Linked DNA regions of Homo sapiens. The main gene of each other region encodes a partner of the protein of the gene in region 4 in a complex. Each region holds a gene or a part of one and is shown on either strand. Other genes may lie near its edges. The genes, in order: PPP4R1, PPP4R4, PPP4R2 and PPP4R3A.

Region 1 (7,664 bases), on a different chromosome or scaffold from region 4:
TGGCCATATGTCCAAAAGTCCTTTGTTCCTGAATATTCTGGGTAAAGGTATCACCTGTAAAAACTTTAGTAACTGAGAAAAATAAGCAATTACTCTAACAAAGCCTTCAACCAAATTATGAATATGCAAATAACTATTGTGCCTTCAATGTCTGTTTTATCCTAAATTAAAATGCACAGGAAACAGAATCTTTAAAAAGTTAGTTGCAGCCGGGCGCAGTGGCTCACGCCTGTAATCCCAGCACTTTGGGAGGCCAAGGCAGGTGGATCACCTGAGGTCGGGAGTTCGAGACCAGCCTGATCAACATGGAGAAACCCCGTCTCTACTAAAAGTACAAAATTAGCCAGGCGTGGTGGCACACGCCTGTAATCCCAGTTACTTGGGAGGCTGAGGCAGGAGAATCACTTGAACCCGGGAGGCAGAGGTTGCGGTGAGCCGAGATCGCGCCATTTTGCACTCCAGCCTGGGCAACAAGAGTGAAACTCCATCTCAAAAAAAAAAAAAATTTAGTTGCGAGCATTGGCAGCATCTTTAAGTACCTTCATTCTGTAAGGTTCAACATCAGTGTTTCCTTCTCTGCTCTTCTTTTAAGCTTCCCTTGCTCTTTTCTCATAACAGCAAACATAATCATAATCATCGCTGTTTACCAGGAATTGTTCCAAGTGCTTCAGAGGCACTAACTCATGTACAGCCTTGAACAACTCTATGAAGTAGGTAATATTTCTTATGCCTACTTACAAATGACAAAACTGAGGCATAGGGAGGTTAAGTGAGTTGCCCAAGTCTGCCCAAAAAGACACTGCTAAGACAAACAGAGCAGCCTGGCTCCAGTGGTAACTGTAATACTGTACTGTACACCTAGATTCAAAACTGCTTGTAAACCACTAGAGGGCATGGGTTGTGCCCATCTTTCTCAAAGCTCCATCCCCAGTACCTGGCAGAGTGTTGAAACTCATGGTTGAATTTTTCACAGGTATGCCTTCCCCTCTACACTGTGCTTCTTGGGGGCTAAGGAAGAAACTGAGACTGCATTTCATCCTTCAGGAGTGAGAAGTTTTTGCTCCAGTCATAAATACTTGCTGAATAAATGAATCTTCTATTTACGAAGTCGAACATAAATATAAAAAGCCCTCCTCGAGGTAACATAATCAGGGCCATTTCTCCAATCCTAACCTGGCAAGAGATCTGAAATCAACAGATGCCTTAAATAATATCTCAAACTTACTATTAGGCAGATAAGTGGCTTAAGGTAAACATTAAATAAAATGTTAAAGCTGCCCTTCACTACATGAGTACTGCTCCCTTTAAGAGAGCTGTTTTGAGCCACCTCACTAAAAACACAGACTTAGCAAAAGTTTGGATGTGGTTCATTTACTTTAAAGATAAATTACTCGTTTCAGATAATCCATCTAAATAGTAAATCCCCCTTACTTTACTCAAAACAACCAGGAATCTAAAAATTAAGTTTACTCTGAGTAAGGGAACCACATTAGACAATGCTAAGGATTAACTACAGAGTATTTAAAAGAGTAATTTCAAACTGCAGCCATCTCTGAAATTACTTATACAGGTACTAGACAGTCAATCTCAGCATCCGGTAGGCTTTCCACTAAACAGACCACAATCCTACTATGGTTATCATCTCAACTCAGAACAATTTCTTGGTCCCTTATGTATCCCATGATCTTCGCTTATATATTTTGCACACTCTGCATTTTTAAAATGCATCTCAAAACCTATTGATTTTTTGATGGGTCGCTATTTTGGAAGATTAGCAAGAATAGAAACTATTTTAAGTTAACTGCAATTTGTCACTTCTTTCAATACAAACCTGCTTAACTCTTTTGTCTTTTCTATCGTGACCCAAATTATTTTCTGAGGCTTAGAAAAGTACATATAAGACGAAAAATTCCTTTCTAAATATCAATTCCGTCGCCATCAGGAAATGTCAGAAACTTTGTCTTTTTAAAAATAAAAGCGTCAACTCTTTAAAAACTTCAGTACCTCAAAGGAAAGCTGCACTGTTAACACTGAAGGAGGGCTGGGTGATTTCTGAACATCCGCATTAAAGAAATATGCTCTCCAAACCTAGTAATTCCTGCGGAGGCCACACCTTCTAACCTTCTCGTAATCCACTAATCAAATCGGGAGCATCTGAAAACTGCTACCAGCCAAAGTAAAATGACAGGTATGTCATCCTCAAACAATCCAAAACCGGGTCGGGGAGCCCAGACGGCTAGCCGGGGCCCAGGCTGACCCCCGGGCGCTCCTGGAAGAGCGACTCTAAGGAAACACACCTCCCGCGCGAGCCTCTTCCTTCCTAGAGTGACGGGGGAAGGGGACACCAGGGGCAGAAACACACCCAAACCCCACTTCAAATCCTGCCCCACCGCTTCTCCTTCCAAAACAGCCGCGCCACTGCTGAGCCCGCAGGCGATTCGGGGGCGCCGGGAGAAGAGAGCGAAGGGCGGAAAGCGAACTTGGGCGTTACTCCGGGCGTCTCCCTCCCCCAGCGGAACCTGGGCGCGCCGTTTCCTCACGGACGCGAGATTTTCCCCCCCGATCGCCACCCCAGCCCGCCTGGGGCCGCCCTCGCCCACCGTCCCCTCAGCCAGCCAGGGCCCGGCCCAGGCCTCGCCGCCGCCCGCCCTCCCCGGCCGCTCCCCGCGGACTGCCAGGCCACCGCGAGGCCGGGCCACTCACATCCGTCTGCGTCCTCCTGCAGGTCCTCCTGAAGCAGCGAGAGGTCTGCGCCGAGGGGAGAGAAGAAAGGCCCGGTCAGCGCCCCGGGGCCCGGCGCGACGCCCCCCCCCCGCCCGCCTCCCCCCCGCCCCGGGGGCGCCTTCCCGCGCCGGGACCCCACGCCGGCCCCGGCCCGGCAGCCACTCAGGGCTGCGGCGGAGGGCGGGTGGGCTCGAGGAGCCGCCGCCGCCCGGAGAACAGGGGGCCACGTACCCGCCATCTTGTGGTCGCCCCCTCCTCCGCGGCCGCCCGGGGAGCCGGGGCTACATGGAGCGGCGCGAGCCGGGGAGCCGGTGGACGCGCGCGGGAGGGGCGGCGGGGAGGAGGAGGGCCGGGCTGGCGGGGGCGCGCGCGCGGGGCGGGCCGAGGGCCCGGGCCTGCCGCGGGCGGCGCGGCTCCCGGCCGCCCGGGCCCCCGGCCGCGCCCCGCCCCGCCCCGCCTGCCCCTCCGCGCGGCTCCCGGGCGACCGGCGCTCCCGCCTCCCGCCTTTCCCGCTGCTTGCCGGGTCCCGGCCCGGCGACGCGCGCTCACACCCTCCTCCCGAGCCGCCCTCACGCCGAGCGCTGCGGACGGGGGCGCGCAACCTGCCGCCGGCCGGGACCCTGCGGCGAGTGCCGGAACCCGGCCGGGCGGGGCCTCCCGCGGCCCGGCCGCTTTATTGGGTCACCGGCCTCGCCCACCGCCCTGCCAGCCGCAGCCATCTCGGCGGGCGCGCCGCTCGCAGCCAGCGCCCCATCCCCAGGCCTGCACGTACGTCGTCGGCGATCCGGGGCCGGGGGCGGCTCCGAGGTCGTCGGGGCCGGGGTCCCACCTCCTCTTGGAGGAAGCGCCGCCTCCCCACCCGCCCGGGGCCCTCGCCAAGTGGCTGCTAACAAAGCCCAGGGCCCGGCTGCGGGATGGTTGACTGACAAAGTCATGCCTGCCTAGCCAGCTTCCTCGTGCAGCACGGTGAAGGCTGGGGCGCCGGGTTTTTACTCCCACGTCCTGCCAACTCGAGCTGACAAGGCGGGCAATCCACCAGCGGGAGCGTTGGCAGGCCCGGGGTCAGATCCTGATTCAGCCAGTTAATTGGTAGGAGTGGGGCCCATTTGTAGAATGAAGGTGATAACTGCCTCGTGGGGTTATTGGCATTAAATGAAGAATGTAGGGAACCTAGCATGGTTCTTGATGTCTAGGAGGTGCTCGGTGAAGGGTGCCTATGATTCGCTTTGTCTTCTAAATACTTTTGGCAGCACTTGAGGTGTTAAAGTCTGTATCCCAGACTTTATTAGTCTTGTTGTTTTACGTGACTTAAGCGATTAGCTCAAACGCCCAAGTACAAAATGGGGCTAAACCCAGGTTTTCCGACACGATTCTACCTCCATGGCTCTATCTCCAGCTCCACCCAAGGCCTCCAAAATGGTGTTCTCCTAAAGTGACCAACAAAACACCAAGCTGTGTCATGGTGCCACTTTGGCGATGTGGTCTCTTAGGAGAGGGAATTCTAAGTAGTTAATTAGCTTGTTCCTTTCTACGTTGTAGTCTTGACCAAGGACAATGTGTTGGCATTTAATGCCACTGAAGATTTAAGAGACTAAGGAATCAGATCCTCTGAGATTCCTAAATCTGTGTAATAAAATGGGTTCTACACATAGCTATTCCAAAAAATTCAGTCAGATATTACTAACAAGATAGACAGATTATAATCTGTATGAAATTTCTAGGAGTAATAAAAATCAGAATAGACCCCGTAACCCCGAGTATGTGTCTAATTTTCTCAACTATAAAATAATTAAAACTAAAGGCCTTTCTCTTCCTCCCTTGGTGAATGCCCTTATGTGAATTCAGCTGACACACTCAGAATGACAAAGGAGTTAGAAATTCACATCAACAGCAATTGGTCCCAACTGACTCAAACCATGAGACTTCTGCCCTGCTAAGATACCTTGTCAGTATCTACCACTTTAGCAATTCTGGGTAAATGGGGGAAGAAAGAGCCAAATCAGCTCTTTTTTTTTTTTTCATTAAAAAGCAAATTTTTTTTAGAGCCAGTCTTGCCTTACGTAGCCCAGGCTGGAGTGCAGTGGCACAATCATGACTCACTGTAACCTCGAACTCCTGGCCTCAAGAGATCCTCCCATCTCAGCCTCCCAAGTAACTGGAACTAAAGGCACAGGCCACTCCACCTGGCCAATTTATTTTTAAAATTTTTTAGGGACGTGGTTCTACTGTGTTGCCCAGGTGGGTCTTGAACTCCTGGCCTCAAGCAATCCTCTGGCCTTGGTCTCCCAAAGCACCAGGATTACAGGTGTGAGCCACCAAACCCGGCCCAAATCAGCTCTTTATTCTAACTGGTGGTCTCACCGCAACAACACAAAATCTACAGCGTGCCAACTGTGCTTCAGCCGCTGGATGCACTAAGACAAAACTGTCTTGATCTACACAGTTGAGTTAGACTTAACAGTTCTCAGTAATCATGATAAAATAGGGACTATGTACCAAATGCTAGCCTAGGATATGGAACAACTAATTCTGCCTTTGGTAGCTAGGCCTCAGTAAGTTTTATCTCAGTATTCTGTGGGAAGGGCAGCAAAGGAGGAGGATCTGTATCATTTTTCTGTATTCAAGAGCTATGCATTTGATTATCATCTTAGCTGAATTACACATTGCAAGAAGTGCCTTTAAGCAATATGGTTTTTAGATATTTCAGTGACGGTATCATTCATGGTTCAGCACAAATATGTGTTTTTTACATTTCACTTTCTCTCCTTTCTAAAAGAAAGGAGTTTTTAAACCAGTGTTTACAAACTGCACTCTGTCCCCTTCTTCTAAGAAATAATATTTAAACAAATAATAGCAATCATTATTCTACATACCTTTAACCCAGCTTCACTTACAATGCAGCTCGTGGATGGCAGAGCTGTGTGTTGTCCGTGGTCAGACACACAGGAAGTCTGAATTGTTATCCTGTTCTGCCACTGAAATGTGTAAAATATAGGGGGAGTGTCCCAAGTCATTTTCCTAAAAGCATCATCCAACTATGTAAGTACTAAGGCCTGCATTTTTAAGAATAAGTCCTCTTCCAAATGATAAGGAAAGGGTTTTTGTTTGTTTGTTTTTGAGACAGGCTCTTGCTGTGTCACCCAGGCTGGAGTGCAGTGGTGCAGTCTCAGCTCACTGCAACCTCCACCTCCTAGGCTCTGGCAGTCCTCCCACCTTAGCCCCCTGAGTAGTTGGGACTACAGGTGGGCGCCACCACACCCAGCTAATTTTGGTATTTTTTCGTAGAGACGGGGTTTTGCCATGTTGCCCAGGCTGATCTCAAACTCCTGGGCTCAGGTGATCTGCCCGCCTTGGCCTCCCAAAGTGCTGGGGTTATAGGCATGAGCCACTGTGCCTGGCCACAGTGACAATTTTTCTTAGCAGCCAATGAGCCTTGGAAATTAATGTGTCTGGCTTTTCAACCACAAACAAACATAAAAAAAAAATGGCGAAAACATCGCTAATAAACAAAACCCACCTGATGTTGCTTGCCACTATCATGTTTGTTAATTTTTGTATCGGTGATTGAACCATTCACTTTTTTCTTCAGAATTATCATTCCTGAAACTGAAAGTATATAAGGACAGCCCTATTATTTATTGTTTTAAATGATGAAAAGAGAAACAGTCTGAAAAATGGAGAAATACTTACATGATTAAAAATGATTTTTAAACAAATATTTATTTGCTTTTTTAAAATGAAATTTGCGTGTCATCTTTGCACAGGGGCCATGCTAATCTTCTCTGTATCAGTCTAATTTTAGTGCATGTGCTGCTGAAACGAGCACGTTAAACAAATTTTTACCATTCATTTCATTCATCTTTTTTGAAGCCAGATTGACAAAATGTCCCTCATAAACTCATTTTCAAATAAGAAGAACAATTTTTAGGCCATGTGTGGTGGCTCACGCCTGTAATCCCAGCACTTTGGGTGGCTGAGGTGGGCAGATCACCTGGCGTTGGGAGTTCGAGACCAGCCTGGCTAACATGACGAAACCCTGTCTCTACTAAAAATACAAAAAATTAGCTGGGCATGGTGGCACATGCCTGTAATCCCAGCTACTAGGGAGGCTGAGGCAGGAGAATCACTTGAACCGGGGAGGCAGAGGTTGCAGTGAGCCAAGATCATGCCACTGCACTCCAGTCCGGGACACAGAGTGAGAGTCTGTCTCAAAAAAAAAAAGGAACAATTTAAAAAAACTAATTGCCAGTCTCTTACCTAAAGCCTCCTATACATTTCTATACATTGTATAAAGGTAAGGACAGACGCAGTGGCTCACGCCTGTAATCCCACCACTTTGGGAGGCTGAGGCAGGCAGATCACAAGGTCAGGGGATCGAGACTATCCTGGCTAACAGTGAAACCCAGTCTCTACTAAAAATACAAAAAAATTAGCCAGGCATGGTGGCGGGCACCTGTAGTCCCAGCTACTCGGGAGGCTGAGCCAGGAGAATGGCGTGAACCCAGGAGGCAGAGCTTGCAGTGAGCCAAGATCGCGCCACTGCACTCCAGCCTGGGTGACAGAGCGAGACTGTCTCAAAAAAAAAAAAAAATTGTATATTTGTGAAATTTTACTTGTCCTCCTCTCTATGCTTCTTCTATCTCCCTTTAAAGCTCCCTGTCAAGGTGACATTCTGAATGTGAAGCCTTAGCCTTTCCTAGAGCTTTCATAGTTTTTCAAAGATACTTGATCTCTTTACTCACATCAGCTAAAGAGACATTTTCTCACACTGTGCTTAAGAAAGAAGAGAGAAAGAAAGAAGGGGAGGGAGGGAGGGAAGGAGGGAGGGAAAGAAAGGAAAAGAAAAGAAAAGAGAAGAAAAGAAAAGAAAAAAGAGAAGAAAAATACCTACAGAACTGAGCTCTATACAGAGTTACCCTGATTCAGGCTGTTCTTTCTAC
Region 2 (7,000 bases), 2.7 Mb from region 4:
GAAAACTTCTATTTATGTGTGAATTCAACGGTATGTGTTTTGGGTGTTTACTTAGAGAATAATCCAACTTTTAACCCATTTTCATATTGTGTTATATTTGGAATACTTTATTCCTTAACAATTAACATGTTTATTATGATGAACAATAGATGTCAACATTTGCCTTTTCCCACAGTTCTTTTACTCAAAGTAGGTAGAAAATTGATGAAAGTGTGGACAAATGTGTTTTAATCTACAACAGTTAATGATTTGAAATAAACTCCTGTTTATTCCTACTGAATTCTTTTCTTTAGTATAAACACTGGCTTAGAATTAGGAAATGGAGAGTCTTGCTCTATTTACTTGTGATAGAAGACACCGTATTCTAAATATCAGTGATAAGGCTTCTTTTTAAGGAAAGCTTATTTGTTTTCTATTTTGCTTTTATTGTTTGTTAGCAAACTAGGTTGTCTGAGTTGTCTTTATTTCTCAGACTCAACATCAGTTTCGCTCAGTTCTGGAATTTACAAAGCCCTTAAAGAGACAGATGGGCCCTCTCATTCTTGGACAAGAGAATTTTAAAAGAGATTCAATATCTCCTTTAGTTTCTTGTGGCTCACCTACCTTGAAGGAGGTTTGCAAGGTGACTCACAAGGGGAACACTGGTTTGGTTATGTATGGATTCTCCAACTGAGTTCTTCTTTTGTATCCCTACCATCTTACCACCTCCTGGGGGAATGTGGGATTTCACCTTAGTCCAGCTTTGGGAGGGATGATGCCAAGAATGCCTGAAAGGGTCTTTCTTCCCTGGGATTCAGGGGAGGGGACAGGATTGTTTCATAGAGATGTTCTGAACTTTGCCTCTGTTTAGGCCTTCTCATCTTCTCTCATGTATTGAGCCTGCTATTGTAGATGTAATTTATTCCTTTTTTTCTAGTTTGTACTTTGCTGAGTCCTTTTTTCCGTCTGTCATTGATTTTCAGGTTTATTTTTGAGCACTTTACCTTTTCCTCTGCATTGAATATTATATAAATGTATAATATATAACATGTTATATATATATTTTCTCTCTGCTTTTATGTGTCAGGTTTGTTTCTTTAGTTCTTTTATTTTGTGTATTGAAACTATTTTGGAGTATTATGTTAAATTAGAATTCAAAGTCAGATGTGTAAGCATCAGTAAGCAATGCTTTATATTAGTGGGGTTCTGATAGCATTTAGATTGAATCCAGTATCTGAAAAAAGCATTTTATATATAGAGTACTGTCATCGATAAAAAACAAATTATACTGTTCATTGTCTTACCCTGAAATATGACATGTCAGTTATTAATGACATTTTCACAATTAAGTTTAGAATATTACAGTCTTCAAAGATTTGACACAGATGAATTTGTGGTTTTGCATACGTGCGATACTGATATACCCATCTGTGGCATTTAGCACTGAAGCAAAACAACTTTCCTAATAGTCACAGCTTGTGTCTTAGTCAAAATCATATCTTATCTTTTTCCTGTTTTTTCTCTTCTTTGTGATTTTGCGTATATTTTTGGAATGTACTTAAAACATGTGAGTGATTTTATTATAGAAGAATCCTAAGTATGTATACTGTGCTTTCATTAGGTAAATCTTTACTTGTATATTTCTGATTGTCTACCAGATAAAGTGTAGACCCTGAAGGCTGGCATTCAGAATACTCCATAGGTGACTCTATCTTAGCTGTGCAATGTGATGTCCCACCAGTCCCTCACTTTTAAAAATGGCTTTACTGAGATATAATTCATAGTCCTTGTAGTTCACCCATTTAAACTGTACAGTTAAGTGAGTTTTAGTATATTCACAGAATTGTGCAACCATCACTGCAATCAATTTTAGAACATTTCCATCACCCCCAAAAGAAACCTTGTACTATTAGCAGTTGCTCCTCAGTACCAACCCTCTCAGCCTTTGGGAACCACTATTCTGCTTTCTGTATCTATGGATTTGCCTATTCTGGAGATTCCTAAACACGGAATCATACAGTATATGGCCTTTTGTGACTGACTTCTTTCACTTAGCATAAGGTGTTCAAGGTTCACCCATGTTGTAGCAGCTATCAGTAGTTTATTCCTTTTTATTGCAGTGTAGTATTCTACTGTATGGATATAGCGCTTTTGTTTAGCCATTCATCAGTTGATGGATATTGGGTTGTTTCCACTTAATTCTTCACTTTTTGATTCAGTCATGCTGGCCTTTTCACTGTTACTCAGTTTCATTGTGTTTATCCTTAATTTTTGCTTTTCCTCATCCTGGAGTACTCTTTCAATATATCCTTATCCAACATACACCATCTCTAGGATCCAGCTGTAATCTTACATCTTTCATAAAGTCTTCTCTAACTGCTTAAACCACATGGATCCCAGGCTTCTTTGAGCTCCGTTATCACTTAGTGGCGCTTTCTTCAATTGGCCATTAATCACTGATTTACATTCCTTAACTGTGTGTGCATGTTTTCTTCAGTAGATTGTAAGGTCCTGGAGGACAAGCTTTTAGAGGACAAGGGCAAGCTTTCTTGTTGTTGTTCTTTCTTGTTCTTCGCTGTGATATAAATATATGCCTCTTAATGGAATAAAGAGTATTTAAGATGACCATACTGCCAGATGAATTAAGGAACTTCTGATATTTTTGATTTTAGGTATTATGAGTCATATCTTGTTCCACAATTTATTATCTATGTGACAGTGGTGAAGTTAGTTATGGTTTTCGAGCCCTGCTTTTCATTTGTAAAGTGGAAATAATCATTCCCTTTTCCCAGTGTGGTTGAAGCACCTGGCACATAATAGGCATCCCGTTACTGTTAATTCCCTTCTGTCTCCTTTTCCCTTTCCCTACTTCCTTGCTACTTAGGTGCTCAAGTTACATTTAAAACTTTAAAAGAGGATAATGGTATTAATTTTGCCTTCCAATAATTTAATAAACGGACAAAGTATACCAACTGAAGTTTGTGATAGATATCCATTAACTTCGTTTGCTAATAGTATTTATCAGAAATTAGAATCTTCACAAATCATAATTAAGCATTTTTAACTGAGTAATAGTAAGGTCAGCCTGTTGATTTATATTTTCTTACCAAATGACCCTAAGTAATATTTGCTATTATGCATTAAATGTATTGATTGGTTAATGTACTGAGACTAGCTTTTATGTTGCTTACTTTTAAAGTCACTTGTGACTTTAAAAATATTTTTCACTTTGTGCTGTGACTTTTAAAGCATTTTGAACTTTGCTTTCCCAGGGCAGTCAGATAAAGAGCTTTGCTTTTTTTTTTTTTTTTTTCTTTTTTCTTTTTTAAAGACAGGGTCTCACTGTGTTTCCCAGGCTGGAGTGCAGTGGCTATTCACAGGCACGGTCACAGTGCTCTAACTCCTGGGCTAAAATGATCCTCCCACCTCAGCTTTCTGAATAGCTGGGACTACAGAAGGCACACACCACCTCCACAGCCACTGCCCCCGATCATAAAGTGCATCTTTATTTGGAACTTTTTTTTTTAACTTTCTCTTCCTATTTTTTAAAGAGTAAGTGCTCCCCCTAGTGATATGAAAGAGTGAGATTTCTGCAGTCAAATCAGTGGAAATAAACAAGTGTTGTACCATGTGAGAACTCTGGCGTACTTCTTCTTGGGTTCAAGACTAGGATAGGGTAGCAATGAGACAGTAAGGAAGAACTCCAGTGATTAAAGCTTTGCTACTCACCTAGCTTTTGGTTGTTTTTCTTTTAAAATACCTATCTTATTTGCTATCCCAAAGTGGAAAGTTGTGTGAAAAACTCCTTTGAATGCCCTCCTTTTTATGACGTGTGTCCCCACATTTACTTTCATTATTGTCTTGATTTCTGTTTTTGATGCTTGCTTCCTTTCAGTATTGTTTTAGTGAGGCATGGTTTGTGTGTGTGTGTATGTGTGTGTGTGAGAGAGAGAAAGAGAGAGGAAGAGAGAGAGATCACATTTGTGTTGTGCATGCATGTGTATATGTGTATATAGGTGGTCTTGAGTGACCAGTATTGCTTGCTCAGTTTTCTTTAGTGATACACAGGAGAGGACTTTTGCATTCTTCACAATTAAGATAGATAGTTGGTTAGTTAATACAAACAATTGGCTAGAATCATAAAATCACAAATGTTACATATTTTCAACATCAAATTTTAATGTAAACTATAAATATATTTTCATTTGCCAATCTTTTGATGTGAAGTCATGATCTTTTCTTTGAGTATGGGTCTGCTGATTAAAGTTTGAAATTCTCCTTCTTTCATAAATCACCCCATAATGCATTTACAATATCAAGTTCAGTTTTCTTTAAAGTTGAACAAGAATTTAAATTTGCTTATGAAGCAGTCTGAAAGCATGGTTCTAGGTTTTTATGATTTTCTACTTGTGTTTTAAAAGTTTTGTTCTTCCATACTTTAGTAGCAATTTTCTTTGACAACTTATGTTTATTGAATTTAGTTTTTCTAAAACTTTTAACTTAATTTGATAGAAACAAATATATGTGTTCATATATTTAGGTAATATTTAATTAAATTATGTAATTGCAACAGCAAGTGAAATTTGAAATAAACTAGTTTGAGAACATACTTAGCTGACTCTTAATTACAACTCAATTAGTGAGAGTGGAATTCTGTGGGCTTTCCAGAGAGTAGCCTATTAGCGACGAGCTTTCAGCTTGCAGTTGCAAGGGAGTAGAGAGTATTGCTTAATCAGGTCTTTTAACATCTTGTCACATCTCAAACACCTTTGTTTGAGAGAGATACATACCATCTCCTTTCCAAGTGTGCTCTGTGATGATCTTGCTTCATTCTTGATATTCCTCTCCTGTCTCTCTGTTGTATTTGTTCCCATGGTCTGGTTTGTTCTTTGTTTGCCTTTATAGATTTAAAAAAGTAATGAATTTGGAATATCAGTTAAAGAAGTACTTTCATAAGCTTATATTTTATTTTTTAACGCGAACTTTGAATGTATGCAGAAATGTGCACAAATCATAATACAGCTTGTTGAATTTTCACAAGTGAACACACCCATGTACCCAGTATCCAGATTAAAGCATAGAACATTATCATGTTAGCTTAGTAGCTTCCTTTGTATTCCTGTCCCAGTGCCCTGTACTTCCTGCAAAGGGTAGCTACTCTACTGACTTCTAACACTATACATTGATTTACCTGATTTTGCACTTTATATAGTAGGAAGCACTCTGTGTACCTTTTGTGTATAGCTGCTTTTGCTCAATATTTTAAAAAAGAGATTTATCCATATTGTTGCATGGAGCAACAGATTGTTCATTCTCATTGCTGTATACTATTCCATTATGTGAATATACCACAATTTATTCATTCCACTGCTGATGGACATTTGGCTTAGTTTTCAGTTTGGGGCTTTTATGAATAATGCTGTTATAATCATTCATGTACAAGTCTCTTGGTGAATACATGTGTGCATTTCTTTTAGGTATCATTATAGAAGCCGAATTGTTGGTCATAGCATATGCCTATGTCCAGCTTAAAAGATATTGCTAAACAGTTTTCCAGTGTGCTTTGACCAGTTTGTACTTCTGCCAGCAGTGTCTGAGTGGTCCCAGCCTATATATTTTTAGGAAACAAAAGTGACAAACTTCTAGTACATAATTTCTAGCATATCAATAATGAACTTCCTAGTTAATAGCCTTTAGATGTTTCGTTTCTCTGTGCATGACTTACACCATCTAACTTTTTTTCTTTCCCTACAAGAAGGGGAGTTCTATAAGGTTTTACTTGGCTACACTGTTGGTTAGAAGACTCTCAGTTATTAGATTGTCTCTTAGGAGATGAGGCATGTTGTGTGATTAGTTTTTCTTAGAAAAAGAGAAACAAAGTGGATATTGGAGTCTACCTGCTTATGGGAGTGCTATTCTCAGTCCCTGTGCTTTTAATGATTCTAAGAGGTCCTCATTAAAAAAATTGCCCACGTTGTCATCCTCTGTGAAGATGATGTACAAATGACTTGCCTTTCTACATGGAAATTGCAGGCATCTTCATTTGTATTTTTTAGGACAGAGGGATCACTGTTTAATATATTAAGAGCAGTATATAATGGATTCCAGCTGTATACCTTCCATTATTGCTAAGGCCAAATTACTGAAGTCTTTGGCAAACCTTGAATTCCCTGTTTTGGAAAAGTACGAGGTCTGTGAATATAAAGGGTTTGGAGATTGTTTCCCATCTCTGTTTCCTTGTCTTTTGTTATGAGAACAACCATGGGAGGCATCTGTGTCTTTTTTCCTACTTACCAAACACTCAGAAAGGTTTCTTTGTGACATCTGTAGAAAGCAGAATGCTCTCATGGGATCTATAGGAAAAGCTTGAAAATAAAAAGTGAAATATTTTCATCAATGTAAAAGTGACCCATATAATGTCATTGAAAAGACCTCTGAAAGCGTAATAACATAATGTGATGTGAGAGAATTGAGCAAAGTTTTCATCTTGTAAGCATAGTGTTTTATTACTTTAAAAAAGCCTATACAATTCTGTAGTACAAAATAATTTCATAATATAGAATAATAAAATACATTAAAATTAATCTATAAAATAAGATAATATATAAAGCAATATAAAATAAATGAGTATACATATTTGAATAATGTGTCAAGTTATGTAACTATCAATGTAATCATATTATAACATATGTATATCATAAATGTATATGCATGTGTGTGTATATGTTTATTTTCATGAGCAATTAATTCATCCCAACGCTCCCTCTTGAGAAGTAGCTAAGTGAGACACAGGGACATAGGAAGATTGAGTTCTATCATAAATTATAACTAATTAGTTCCCAGTAAAAAGTGGGAGTTGTACTGCTTGGTTCCCAGTCTTGTAATGTTGAATTGTGCAGTAGTTTCTTAGTATTGACATTAAGAATTAGAGGGCTCACCATACCAAGTGGTAAAATTCATAGCTTTCTTTTTTTTTTGAGACACGGTCTTGCTCTGTTCCCAGGCTGGAGTGCAGTGGTGC
Region 3 (7,212 bases), on a different chromosome or scaffold from region 4:
GGAATTACAGGCGTGAGCCACTGTGCTGGGCCTCTATATTTCAGTTTTCTTTTCTGTTAAGTGAGGAGGATCCTCATAGGATTTTGTGAGGATTCAATTAAATACTTTTGTAAACTGCTTAGGAGACACTTTTTGATAGTTTTGTAAACTGCTTAGGAGAATGCCAGACACATGAAAGTATTTAATAAATATTAGCTGTTACTATTAAATTTCTTATTTGTTGCATTAGTTTCTAAAATTTAGAGGCTTAGAACAGTTATAGACATTGTCACCTTTTACAGTTTCTGTGGATCAGGTATTGGGAAGTGACTTAGATGGGCTGCTCTAGTGTGGGATGTCTGCTAAGGTTGTGATCCAGATGTCAGCTGGGGCTGCAGTTACCTGAAGGAATTCCTGAGGCTGGAGGATCCACCTTCAAGGACAGTTCTTCTCTCTGTGGGGCCTTTCCACAAGACTGTCTAATGTTCTCATGACATGGCAGCTGGCTTCCCCCATTGAGGCCCCATTTACCAATTCAAGAGGCCAAGGCAGAAGCCCTAGTGCCTTCACACAGACAGCTGTGATTTGGTGTGCCTGATTATACTAGGGCATGAATCTCAGCAAGTGAGGATCATGAGGGGTAATTGTGGGGGCTGGTTGCCACATTTGTATTCTGTTTTCTTCCCAGGAAATCGGCATCAGTAGGAGGCTTATTATTCTATTTTTTATTTTTGAGTCAGGGTCTCACTATGTTTGTGGCCCAGGATGGATTACAGTGGCATGATCCCGGCTCACTGCAGACTTAAATTCCTGGGCTCAAGTAATCCTCCTAGCCTCCCAAGTAGCTAGTACTACAGGTGTGCGCCACTACCCCTGGTAATTTTTTATTTTTTGTAGAGACATGTTGCTGGGCTGGTCTCAAGTGATCCTCCAGCCTTGGCTTCCCAGAGTACCGAGATTACAGGTGTGAGCCACCATGCCCAGCCAGTAGGAGGCTCTAGTAATTGCAGACATTGTGATACAGGCCGGCTGGAGAAGAATTCAAGGAAGAAGGAAGGAATGAACCAAACGAAGTTATTTTTTCAGCCTCATCTTTTGCCTCTTCTCCCCTTGTAATCTTGACTTCCAGACACTGGATAAGGTCTATGACGGGCGACAAAGTGCACACAGCAATGACAGCCTAAGGGAATCGTGGAAAGTGTACCAGAGGAAGTGGTGTTTAAGTAGAGATCTGAATTTGCAGAGGAATGTAGCAAAGTGCATTGGAGAGGAGGAGCTAACCAGAGGGGCACAAGCCTTGATTATCTGAAGACCAGGTGGGATCTGAAAAACCATAAGAAATTCAGTTAAGCTGACAGCAATGAAAGGGACAAAACAGTGTTAGAAATTAGCATAATGTGTTCTCCAACAGAAAGTTCCAATAGAACTTTTTGCAATAATGAAATTTTCTTTATCTGAACTATCCAATACAGGAGCCACTAGCCACATGTAGCTACTGAGCACTTAAAATGTGGCTGGTGTGACCAAAGAATTGGATTTTTAGGCCAGGGGCGGTGGCTCACACCTGTAATCCCAGCACTTTGGGAGGCTGCGGCGGGTGGATCACAAGGTCCAGAGTTCAAGACCAGCCTGGACAATATGGTGAAACCCCGTCTCTACTAAAAATACAAAAATTAGCTGGGCGTGGTGGTGGGAGCCTGTAATCCCAGCTACTCGAGAGGCTGAGGCAGAGAACTGCTTGAACCCGGGAGGCACAGGTTGCAGTGAGCTGAGATCACGCCACTGCACTCCAGCCTGGACGACAGAGCAAGACTCCGTCTCAAAAAAAAAAAAAGGAAAAGAAAAAAGAAAAAAAAAAGAATTGGATTTTTATTGAAGAACTCAGGAACTGAATTTTAAATTTTATTTAATTTTAATTAATTTAAATTTCAATATTCACACATGGCTAATATCTACTGTACAGCAGAGCTCTTACAGTAAGAGACCCTTCTGAATAGTAGAGTGGCAGATAGAAGGAGAGGCTAAGCTTTGCCATGTAGGCAGTAGGCCCTTTCAGACTGGAAGGGACCTGGATAAACTAAACCTGGTGCCTGGCAAGTGCTGGCCAAGTGCTTGATGTGCTACCCTATTCCCTCTCTCTGCAAGGATATTTGTAATTGAGCTAGATGCTCTGAACAACGAAGGTCTAAAGACACAGGGGACTGGTTCTCTGATGGCACAATTTGAGAGAGCTATTTTGGGTGTGAATGTCTTTTGCCTACATCTACCACCTAGGATCAGGGTCAGACCCACTGTCTTTTAAGAGGGTCAACAGTGTAAAGGCTGTGTCCAAACTTGCATCTTCTTAGACCAAACAATAACCTTCCTTCCCTCCCTTGGTCCTTCTCTCCCCTCCTTCCTTCCATGACTTTGTGCTATGCTGGGTTTTGGGAAGAGGAGGTGGAACAACGCAGTACCTTTTCTTTTCTTTCTCTCTCTCTCTTTTTTTTTTTTTTTTTTTTTTTTTTGAGACGGAGTCCCATTCTGTCGTGCCCAGGCTGGAGTACAGTGGCTGGAGTATCTCGGCTCACTGCAACCTCAGCCTCCAGGGTTCAAGGGATTCTCCTGCCTCAGCCTCCCGAGTAGCTGCGATTACAGGTGCCCGCCACCAAGCCCAGCTAATTTTTTTTTTTTTGTATTTTTAGCAGAGACAGGGTTTTGCCATGTTGGCCTGGCTGGTATCAAACTCCTGACCTCAGGTGATCCGCCTGCCTCAGACTCCCGAAGTGTTGGGAATACAGGTGTGAGCCACCGTGCCCGGGCAGTACCTTTTCTTTTAAAAGCTCACAGATGAGTATAAAAATGTCCACGCACTGGCTGGGAGCCAGATGATTTGGGTTCTGGGTTCTAGTTCTGTCTCCCCAGACTTGCTGTCTGTGACACAGCTTTCCCATTTGTAAAATGTCAGGGCTGCAGAGGACTTCTGAGGTTTCCGCCCTCTCCTACCTCCTGGGAGATTATGTCATGTAATAATGCTAACAGTGGTAATAAAAACCCAGCCACGTTGAGTGTTCCAGGTTTCACGCACTGTGCCAAATGTTTCACATTTGCCATTTCACTCAATCCTCGTGGCCGTTTTACAACCCTCATTTTATAAATAAGAACCCTGAAGCTGCCTGAGTTTAGGTAACTACTTCAGGGCCACACAAGGAGTAAGTAGTTGAGTTGGGATTTGAATATTGATTCCAAACCTTGAGCTCTTAATGACTTTGCTGTATACATTACTTCTTGCCACAGGTGGGCCAGTGACGAACGAACGTTGGGTTAAGCAGGGAGGTATTCTTGTTAGGATTATTAGCAATGCTTAGTGTATGTATGTATTGTTAATTTTATTATTATTTTTTTGAAACAGTCTCGCTTTGTCGCCTAGGCTGGAGGCAGTGGCGCGATATCGGCTCACTGCAACCTCCGCCTCCTGGATTCAAGCGATTCTCGTGCCTCAGCCTCCCGAGTAACTGGGATTACAGGCACGAGCGACCACGCCCGACTACATTTTGTATTTTTAGTAGAGACGGGGTTTCGCCATGTTGGCCAGGTTGGTCTTCAACTCCTGACTTCAGGTGCTCCGCCCGCCCCAGCCTCCCAAAGTGCTGGGATTACAGGCTTGAGTCACCGCGCCCGGCCTGTATTTATTTTTATATAGAGAAGGGCGAGGGAGCGGGGTCATTTTGTTACCCAGACTGGTCTCGAACTCCTGGGCTCAAGCGATCCTCTCGCCTCGGCCTCCCTCCCAAAGTGTTGGGATCACCGGCCTGAGCCCCCTGCCCGGCCTCGCTCTACGTTTTTTAGGCGCATTCTGAACGTGAAGTGTATACACTGAATTCTCACAGCAACTGCATAGGGCATCAGTACCAGTGCCCTTACTGTACAGATGGGGAAAATGAGGCTCAGACAGGCGAAGTAAGTAGCTTAAGTTCACACAGAGAGGAAATGGCAGGGATTCAAAGCCTAGGAGTCCGCCTGCAACCCTCTCGCCTGACCGTCCAGTCTTCAGCTCCGCGGAGCCTGGGCCTGGGGCTGGGGCTGGGGCTGAGGCTCTGGAAGCCGCCGGGACGCAGACGCCACTGGGCCCCAGCGTCACACCTCGGCCGCGCACGCGCTCTCGGGTTCCGGGCCGGAGCGCGCGGCGGGAGCGAGGACGGCGGCAGGGAGCGTGCGCGCGGTGACGTACCGGGCGCCATGTTGGAGGGTTGGTGGTAGCGGCTTGGGGAGGTGCTCGCTCTGTCGGTCTTGCTCTCTCGCACGCTTCCCCCGGCTCCCTTCGTTTCCCCCCCCCGGTCGCCTGCGTGCCGGAGTGTGTGCGAGGGAGGGGGAGGGCGTCGGGGGGGTGGGGGGAGGCGTTCCGGTCCCCAAGAGACCCGCGGAGGGAGGCGGAGGCTGTGAGGGACTCCGGGAAGCCATGGACGTCGAGAGGCTCCAGGAGGCGCTGAAAGGTGGGGGTAGCTGCCCCCTCTCCATTCCCCCTCACCTTCTCCGGCTCGCTCTTCTCTCCTTTCAGGGCGGATGGTTCCGAGGACCGGGGCCGGGCGCGGCGTGGGGAGAGTGCTTCCCGGGCTCCCATCCCCCTCCACCTCCCCAGGGGCGGGGAGCCCTGTGGGCAGCTCTCTCCCGCCCCGCTCTGGCTTTGTGTCGGCCGCCGGCGTCTGGGCTGGGGGAGGGGAGCCGGGGAAACTCTTGCGGGGGCCCCAGTCTTTCTCCCACCCGTTCAGGGGACGAGTGGCGGACCCGCAGACCCCTCCCTCCCAGATATCCTCTTTTCTCCACCAGGCTACCCGTACGCTAGGCGTTGGGGTGGGAGAAAAAGTAAACGGTTGGTGGGGGCGGGGGTAGGGGGTAGCATCGCAACTTTTAAGTTGTCTCAGTATGCCTTTTTCAGGGCTTTTGAAGTCATCTTTCCGCGCCCTAATTTCGAGGTGGTTGCCTTCACTGTTCTTGATTGCACGCCTTCCACGCAACAGGCTTGAGAACAGTGGCTTACAAACTTCGAGTAGAGAGATTTCAGCGTTTTGAGAATTATTCTTTGACATTCAGAATCATTTGGGGACGGCAACTTGGGGTAGTTGGTGCTTCTTAGAAAGGCAGATTTATGGACTTAGATGAACAATTGGTGGGAGTCGGGGCCTGGGGATTTTTATTTTCACTGGATTCCCAGCTTAATATAATGCTGGTGTTCCCCCGGACCACACTTCGAGAAGCACTGCGTTAAAAATGGTTTGTGAAGTTGAGTGCCCCCTTTAGGAGGATTCTTGTTATCTGTAAAGAGGGTGACATGTTGGAAGTAGAACTTGGAGGATTGAGGTGGTAATTTGGTTGAGAGGCCTTATTTTTTTAATTTTGTATTTAATTGATTTTTAATAAGGTAAAGGACTAGGAGGAAAGTTTGTTTTTAGAGCGCTTTTGAGAAAACTGATAACGTTTTTTTTTCTTCCTTCATCTAGATTTTGAGAAGAGGGGGAAAAAGGAAGTTTGTCCTGTCCTGGATCAGTTTCTTTGTCATGTAGCCAAGACTGGAGAAACAATGTGAGTTGAAAACATGCATTTGTCGTTATAGACCAGTGCATTATTAAGAATTGCTCAGGAAAGGGAAAAAAGTATATTTTGGGATAATTAAATAATTCATTCTAAATTGTAGAAGTCCTGGTCATTTAAATAATTTATATATTTACATTTAAAGAACGTATACGCTTACTTACTTTATACATGGTCTGTAACGGATTTTAAAAACCTGTGTATGTTAAAATTTTCTTTATAGCTAGGCTTTGGCACGCTTAGAGAATGTATTAGTCTTAACGAGCCAGAGAAAGGAAGAATGCCTATTCCATTATGACCCTTTTTGGCCATAACAAATAGGCTTATTCCTAGAATTTTGTGGCTTTGATTCTGTTTCAGAGTCTTGGTGGTATTTTCTCATATTGTCGTGTGTCCAGCCTTTTTTTGGTCATATTTGCATATGTAGGTGTTTAAAGTGTCACTTCTATTTATCGTCTGGAGGACTCTGTTATTATCTGACAAATTCCAGATGCTACAGTTTTGACTTGTAGACTTTCTAAGATAGCTGACTTGTTACATATGCTCAGCATTTTATTCAGCTCGTTTCCAAATGTTCTGAATCTGAAACTTACGCTATAAAGTTAGGGCTGTGTTCAGAAGGAACATTCCAGGTCATTGTTTTGCAGTTTGTGTGGTAGACACAATCTGGCTAAGTTTATTTGTAGACAACAGTGCATCTTTGATGACTTCTTTTTGTAGTCTTTGGGTGGGGGCTGGGGCAGCAGGAAAGGGGTAGGTTTCTATGGTTTCAATGTTAATAAGTGGGTTATCTGCCCAGTATGAGTGTAGCTTTCAGCAAGAATTGTATAATTTCTCTGGCTTTATTATTAGCAAGTGTTCATTTCTCACAAGATTTGCTTATTTGTAGTCTAGCCTTTTAACAACTAGCCTAATTTTAGAAAGAAAAAAACCTTTGCTGCCTCAGTGCTTGATTTAATGGTCATGCCTGCAAGCTGAGTCTCCTTAGTATTCTATTAAAATACACCAGTCATTTTGAGAACGTCAGTGTGATGTGTTCAATGTTGTATTTCTATTTATTACATTAAAAAATGGGACCCTCTGGGCGGGGGAAGTCATTTTTACCTTCGCATTAGGGTTTCATATAGAACATCTTGATTTAGAACAATGTAAAACTGTTAATTTGTGCTTATATAGATAAGCCTAAAAATGACCACATGCCATCTTTCAAAAATAAATTAATCCCTAAAACATAAATGCTTAGACTGCCACTATTCCTCTTGAATTGCTAGTCGGCACAGACTTAGCCCTGTCAACAATGTCAAGCCAAATAGCATTTTACTTTTGGCTGTTTTTTGATATACAAGATGATATCAAACTATTTGGAGATGAGTACTTAAAACGTCTTACTCAGTTTATCAGGTTTGTACACACTGCTTTCCCTTTTTGATAAAGTACATTGCCTATAAATGTATAAATAATTGAAAGTTTCTAAAAGATAGCTTTTTAATATCCTGTCTTACTGGAACACCAAGTGGCTGGGGAAGTTATCTGATTTTTTTTGGACAGTTATTTTATCCTGGTAGAAGAGGACTTAAAATTCCCAATCCTCCACCCCATATTCGGTGTTTATGTATTCACTAAGCATGTTTTGTACTGAAATGATTGGTGTAGTTAGATTCTTAT
Region 4 (6,885 bases):
AACCCAATCTCAAAAAAAAAATCTATACATATTATATATACTATATAGTATATATACTATAATTATATATACTATATAGTATATGTACTATAATTATATATACTATATAATATATATACTATAATTATATATACTATATAGTATATATACTATAATTATATATACTATAGTTATATATACTATATAGAATATATGCTATAATTATATATACTATAGTTATATATACTATATATTATATATAGTTATATATACTATATATTATACATACTATAGTTATATATACATGTTATACATACTATAGTTATATATACTATTATATATACTATAATAATATATACACGGAAAAAAATTGCTTATATTAATTATGCAGAAAAGCATACTTCTGATAGTACGACATTAAACTTTTATACTTAAAAATATCTTAAAGGATTTTTTGTATAATGAATCAAATTAAACACATGATGTGAAGGTTATATGTATTATTTTTAATATGGATTTCAATAAATTGATCTCAAATCTACATATGCTTTCAGCTGGGATGGGGGTCATGCCTGTAATCCTAATACTCCGGGAGGCCGAGGCGGGTGGACTGCGTGAGGTCAGGAGTTTGAGACCAGCCTTGGCAACAGGGCAAAATCCTGTTTTTATTTTTTTGAAAGTAAAAAATTAAAAAGAAATCTACGGATACTTTCATCTCATAAGAAGCTGATACAAAAAGTCCATACCTTCCAACATACTATGTAAAGTTTTCCAAATGTGTGAAAGATCTAGAGTAGGTTATTATGTGAGTCACATACAAAATTACACTAACACTTGACATTCAAATTGTATTTTAAGAAGCCAATAACTCAGGCCCAGAAAAATACACCCAACATTCAAAAATTTTTAAATGCCTCCAAAAGAAAATAATTTCTCTCCAGATTTAAGTTACTTTGGGTAACCTTATAACCTGTGGGCAATATACTCCAGATTACCACTTTCAATTTAAATAGAACATCAATATTCCCAGAGTCTTCAATTACAGAAGGGCTAGTCTTGTTGGTTTTTCATGGAATTGGAGTTCTGGGGAGAGTCCAATTGAAGAAAATTCCTTGAAATTAGTTTGCAATAATTCAGATACAGAATCGCTACAATCATAATAAACTGGCATCGTTAGCAACTGCAAAATATAAACTAATGTACAAAAAGAAGTGGAAGATAACTTACTTTCACGTTTGGAAGTAACAATTTGAGAATAGTTTTACCCCACTTGAGTATTTTAAGTGAAATTCACTGTATATCGCCAAAAACAGTGGCAATCCCTACAGAGAATAAGCCTTTTAAAATATGAAACAGCACATGTGGAAAAAAGAAAAAACGTGAAACACTTATTTTCAAACAACTTAGTCTTTGAACCTTGAGGGCTGTTTCAAAATTTGTGAAGCATAAACACTAGGGAAGATCCGAAAGGTTTTAAAAATTATCTGCCAACTTCTCTGCACCTGTTAACCAAATTATGAACACCCATTTAAGCAATCAAAAAAAGCTCATATGATTCCAACTTTGCAAGATGTTTATATAGTAAGCTACACACAAAATTCTGCATTACTATAAAAAAGACAACCAACACTGGTGAACGAAAATCTTCGCAAGGGAAAGCGTTTTCTCTTAGTGTAGAGTTGCCAGATACAGTGTTGCCAAGCTTCAACACGATCAGAAACATGTAGCAAAAAGATGTTTAAAAAGAAAAACAAAAAAAGCACAGCAAAACGTTCTTCAAAGTGTGAAAGGTCCAAGAACTTTCTTAGCTCCAAGCAAAGTTTCATGCCTGCTTTACAGATGGGTGAACTAAGGCAGCAGATCGGATTAATCAGTGTCTTTCTCAAGGTCACTCTAGTGCAAAAGAACAGCACACTCCGGACTCCCTATCTCAGGTCCTCGACCTCTCCACACTCCAGGGCGGCACAGCTCAAACACGCTTGGCTCTCCTCGTACCCAAAATGCCACCAGGCACTCAGAGAAAGGAAACATTTCAAGCGCTCTCCGGGGAGCTCCCGCAAGACTGGGGTACCTGGGGCCCGTCCTCCCCCGAGGTGGCCGCCCTCCCCAGCCGTCCCTCTGTTCTCGTGGAGCGAGCGCCATGCCCCGCAAGAACCAGGGAGGCGGCCCAGGGCCGTGGGGGCTGCGAGGGTCCCGCCGCGCGGGGCTTCACTTACCGTCGCTCTCAGCCCTGACAAGCAGGGACATGCCCTTCAGCCGCTCCACGTAGCCAGACGACACATGCCCGGTGCCCCGGTCGTCCCACTGCCGGTCCTCGTTGAGCGTGTACACCTTCACCCGCCGCCGGGTGTCGGTCATCGTGCCGCCCGGGAACCGGGGCGGGGGCCCCGCCAGTAGACGCCCAGGAAAGGGGCCCTGGAGAGGCGAGGGGCGAGGCGTGAGGGCGCCCGCGAGCGGAGGGCTCCCCGGCCTCACTGCCGCCGCTGGGCGCCGCGGGGCCGCGCCGCCGCCTGCATGGCCCGCTCCAGGGACCGAGCTCTGGGCCGCCGCCTTTCCTCGCCTCCGGCTCCCCGGCGCTATTGTCCAGGCCTGGCGAGCCCGGCGCCCGGCAGCCCCGAGGGGGCCGCGCAGCGCTTCGTAGCCTCCCGCCCCGCAGCGCTAGGAACTCGGGGCTCCCGTCACTGCCCTGCTCCCGCCTCCGCCATGATCTCCGCGAAGCAGCTTCCCGCGCCGCCGCCGCCTCCTCAGGCCGCCGCCGCCGCCGCCATATTTTCCTTCCTTATACCTGGCCCTGCCACCGCGGCCAGTGGCTCCCTTCCGCTCCCCCTGTTTTAAACGTCAGAAGCCGACAGGCGCCTGATCCTGCTGCAACTGCTACCACTGCCCGGGAGACTCTGAGGGCCCCCGGCCGCCCAAGCGACCCGGACTAGTGGAAGTCGGTTTCCCTCCGCCGCCGTCTCTTCCGTCTTCCTCACACAGCCAAAACCGCCGCCATCTTGGTTCGCCCCTCAAAAGCGGCGCGCGGGGCCACCCAGGGAGCAGCTGCAGGGGCGGCTCGTAGCCCCACCATTTAAAGAGACAGCAGCGAGACCGGGAGCCTTACTGCGGCGGAGGCTTCCGACGGAGGCGGGAGGCGGGCGCGGAGTTGCCGAGGTGGCGGGAGCGCAGGGAGCGGAGGAGGCGGGACGCAGATTGCGCCGGTGACAGCCCGAGGCTCCCTCCCGCCTCCTTGCACGCACCGTCGTGCGAGCGCTGGGCGGTGTGTGCGTCCGTCGCGCCCTGTGTTCGTCATCAGCCCCGCTCCAGGATGCACGAGGGGCGTGGATACGTTTGCGGCCTCTGCCCGCGGGCCCCGGCGCTTCGGCCTCGCCTCCGCCCGCCGCCACCTTCCCTTGTTCCTGCCCCGTCCCTGCCTCTGCCCCTGCCCCTGGCCTGCGGACGCCGGGCAGCGTGGGCCTGGGCCCCTACCCGCTTCCGAGAGCGTTTTCCCGGGGCCGCCTTTATGGCTGAGTCGGGCGCTCGGGACCCACCCGGCGCCTTGCGGACTTGAGGGAATGAAATGGAAACGCTTCCGGGGAAGGTCGCGGGTGTGGGCGCCTAGGTCGGCGCAGCCTTGGGAGCCGCCGTGGGTCGCGGACTGGCGTGGCCAGTGTGGAAACTTGGGACTGTTTGCGATTTCTGGGCGTGGGACCGAGTTCCAAGTGACAATTCTAAAACTTCACCTTACAGCCTAGGCAAGCCCCAAGTGCTCCATTCCTTCATCCCTATCAGAACTGTCTGCCAGCCTTTCTTGTCGGAAAAGGAACTTAAGGCGCTCACAAAAACAAATGCGACACTGTGTAATCGGGAGGAGTAATTCTCAGCATTAGGTAGTCCTGTGTTTTGAAGACCTACTTGATGTCAAGTATTGTTGATCTTCACAAAGGAATATCATTCTCGTTCCTATCATGCAGCTCATATGCCACCATTTTGGTGGCTTTTACCATTTGCCAGGCCTTGCCAGGTCGGGCTTGTCCGCTCGGAATATAATGCAGCCACACACATAACTTTAAATTTTGCAGTAGCCACAAAAAGTACGAAGAAACTGGTGAAATTAGTGTTAACGTTTTAGTGCGGTATTTTCAAAAGTTATTTCAATAATCAAATTACTAATGAGATATACGTACAATGTCTTAAAAATGTGATATATTTTGTCCTTCCAGCAAGTCTCTGTTGGGATACTAAATTTTCATCAGAAATATCTACGTTTAGATTTTATTGAAAAAAAATTTTTTTTGAGACAGGGTCTCTCTGTCACCCATCCTGAAGTGCAGTGGCTCAGTCTCAGCTCACTGCAGCTTCAACCTCCTGGGCTGAAGCGATTCTCCCATCTCAGCCTCCCAAGTAGCTGGGACCACAGGTGCGCAGCACCACTGCCAGTTAATTAATTAAATTTGTTATTATTTTTTTTTTTCGGTAGAGACGGGTTTCACTGTTGCCCGGGCTGGTAGAGTTTATTAAATTTACAGTTGAAAATGTAGATTCACATATTCTGTTATTCCAATCATACTTAAAAGTTTTCCAAAAGCTGAATCAAGTATCAGTTTTTAAATTTAGCTGGGCGCGGTGGCTCACGTGGTCAAGGAGTTCAAGACCAGCCTGGCCAACATAGTGAAACCCCGTCTTCACCAAAAATACAAAAAAATTAGCCGGTCATGGTGGTGTGCGCCTGTAGTCCCAGTTACTCGGGAAGCTGAGGCAGGAGAATCCTTGAACCCGGGAGGCGGAGGTTGCAGTAAGCTGAGATTGTGCCACTGCATTCCAGCCTGGGCAACAAAGCGAGACTCTGTCTCAAAAAATAAAATAAAATAACAATTTAAATTTAAAAATTAAGTAAAATGAAAAATTCAGCTTGTGAGTTGCACTAGCCAAAATTTGAAGGCCTGGTAGCCACATGTGGCTAGTGGCTAGTTTTGGAAGGTTCGAGTGCTTGACATTGCCAGGAATCTTTTAAACTTGCAATGTGGCCGGGCGCAGTGGCTCACACCTGTAATCCCAGCACCTTGGGAGGCTGAGGCAGGCGGACTGCTTGAGGCCAGGAGTTCGAGACCAGCCTGGCCAACATGGCAAAACCCTGACTCTACTAAAAATACAGAAATTAGCCAGGTATGGTGGTGTGCGCTTGTAGTCCCAGCTACTTGACTGTCTGAGGCACGAGAATCCGCTTGAACCTGTGGAGGCGGTGAGTGCAGTGAGCCGAGATTGTACCACTGCACTCCAACCTGGGTGTCAGAGCAAGACTCTGTCTTAAAAAAAAAAAAGAAAAGAAAAAGAAGAAACCTGTAAAGTAACTGGTGTTACACCCATCTATTAGGAAGGAAGCTAATAGCATGAACAGGGCTGAGGGGTTTCTGGGATACAGGACTTTCAGTTTTAAAATCCTTTAGAAGTTGGGACCTTCCTCCCCAACAACTTAAAATATAAACAGGGCGCGGTGGCTCACGGCTGTAATCCCAGCACTTTGGGAAGCCGAGGCTGGCGGATCACGAGGTCAGGAATTCGAGACCAGCCTGGCCAACATGGTGAAACCCCCGTCTCTACTAAAAATACAAAAATTAGCAGGGCACGGTGGCGCGTGCCTGTAATGCCAGCTACTCGGGAGGCTGAGGCAGGAGAATTGCTTGAACCCGGGAGGCAGAGGTTGCAGTGAGCCGAAATTGCACCATTGCACTCCAGCCTGGGCAACAAGAGGGAAACTCTGTCTCAAAAAAACAAACCAAAAAAAAAACGATAGAAACGAGTGCTTGCAAAGACCAGTCGGAAACTCATTGTTCACAAACAAAACTGGAAAATTATGAAAACAAAGCAGTCGCTTTTTCTTTAAAAAAAAAAAAGGCAACAATTTATTTACGTATTTTGAGGTGGAGTCTCCTTCTGTCACCCAGGCTGGAGTGCAGTGGCACGATCTCAGCTCACTGCAACCTCTGCCTCCTGGGTTCAAGTGATTCTCCTGCCTCAGCCTCCCAAGTAGCTGGGATTACAGGTGCCTGCCACCACGTCCAGCTAATTTTTGGTATTTTTAGTGGAGACGGGGTTTCACCATGTTGGCCAGGCTGGTCTCGAACTCCTGACCTCAAGTGATCCATCTGCCTCAGCCTCCCAAAGTGCTGGGATTACAGGTGTGAACCACCACGCCTGGCCAACAATTTCAAGTATTAGGGCATGAGAGCAATTTTGTCAATTTTTGATGCAATGAAGACATCAGTAAATTTATTCATATGCTAATACTTATTTGATCCCCAAACCAAACATGAAATACTTTGTAGAAAATAATAAAGTAAATTAAAAAGAAATTATTTAGTATATGGAATAAGGTTAAAAATTATAGTTTATGGAACATACCATAAAATATTAGATTTAAATGAAATTTAATACAATACAATCTTAACAGTTCTATGAGTCTAGATTCTACCAGAGAAACAACCAGTAGAATACATCTACACAAGGATGGAGAGAGTTATCTCAAGAAATTTGTTTGCATGATAGTGCAGTCTGGCTAGGCAAGTCTAAAGTATGTAGGACAGGTTAGCAGCAGAGGGGAAGCTCTGAGGCAGGAGCTGACACTGCAGTCAACAAATTCTTCCTTGGAGAAATATATTTGCTCCTTTTTTTTTTTCTTTTGAGACAGAGTCTCACTCTGTCGCCCAGGCTGGAGTGCAGTAGCACAATCGCAGCTCACTGCAACCTCTGTCTCCCCAGGTTCAAGGAATTCTCATGCCTCAGCCTCCCAAGCAGCTGGAACTATAGGTCTGTGCCACCATGCCTCGCTAATTTTTGTATTTTTAGTAGAGATGGGGTTTCACCAAGTTGGCCAGGCTGGTCTCGAACTCCTGACCTCAAGTGATCTGCCTGCCTCAGATTCCCGAA

The links.
Region 1: PPP4R3A (region 4) and PPP4R1 share a complex: the UniProt entries of both Homo sapiens proteins name them as parts of the PP4 complex.
Region 2: PPP4R3A (region 4) and PPP4R4 share a complex: the UniProt entries of both Homo sapiens proteins name them as parts of the PP4 complex.
Region 3: PPP4R3A (region 4) and PPP4R2 share a complex: the UniProt entries of both Homo sapiens proteins name them as parts of the PP4 complex.

The regions. Positions count from the first base shown.
Region 1 is NC_000018.10:9,611,523-9,619,186, forward strand, and holds the start of PPP4R1 (serine/threonine-protein phosphatase 4 regulatory subunit 1), read right to left. Parts: upstream 3,038-7,664; 5' UTR 2,963-3,037; coding exon 2,956-2,962; intron 2,753-2,955; exon of another isoform or gene 2,749-2,752; coding exon 2,704-2,748; exon of another isoform or gene 935-2,703; intron 1-934. UniProt on the Homo sapiens protein: Regulatory subunit of serine/threonine-protein phosphatase 4. May play a role in regulation of cell division in renal glomeruli. The PPP4C-PPP4R1 PP4 complex may play a role in dephosphorylation and regulation of HDAC3.
Region 2 is NC_000014.9:94,177,322-94,184,321, forward strand, and holds part of PPP4R4 (serine/threonine-protein phosphatase 4 regulatory subunit 4), read left to right. Parts: intron 1-7,000. UniProt on the Homo sapiens protein: Putative regulatory subunit of serine/threonine-protein phosphatase 4.
Region 3 is NC_000003.12:72,992,621-72,999,832, forward strand, and holds the start of PPP4R2 (serine/threonine-protein phosphatase 4 regulatory subunit 2), read left to right. Parts: upstream 1-4,190; 5' UTR 4,191-4,417; coding exon 4,418-4,451; intron 4,452-4,486; exon of another isoform or gene 4,487-4,571; intron 4,572-5,456; coding exon 5,457-5,538; intron 5,539-7,212. UniProt on the Homo sapiens protein: Regulatory subunit of serine/threonine-protein phosphatase 4 (PP4). May regulate the activity of PPP4C at centrosomal microtubule organizing centers.
Region 4 is NC_000014.9:91,507,311-91,514,195, forward strand, and holds the start of PPP4R3A (serine/threonine-protein phosphatase 4 regulatory subunit 3A), read right to left. Parts: upstream 3,001-6,885; 5' UTR 2,338-3,000; coding exon 2,196-2,337; intron 1-2,195. UniProt on the Homo sapiens protein: Regulatory subunit of serine/threonine-protein phosphatase 4. May regulate the activity of PPP4C at centrosomal microtubule organizing centers.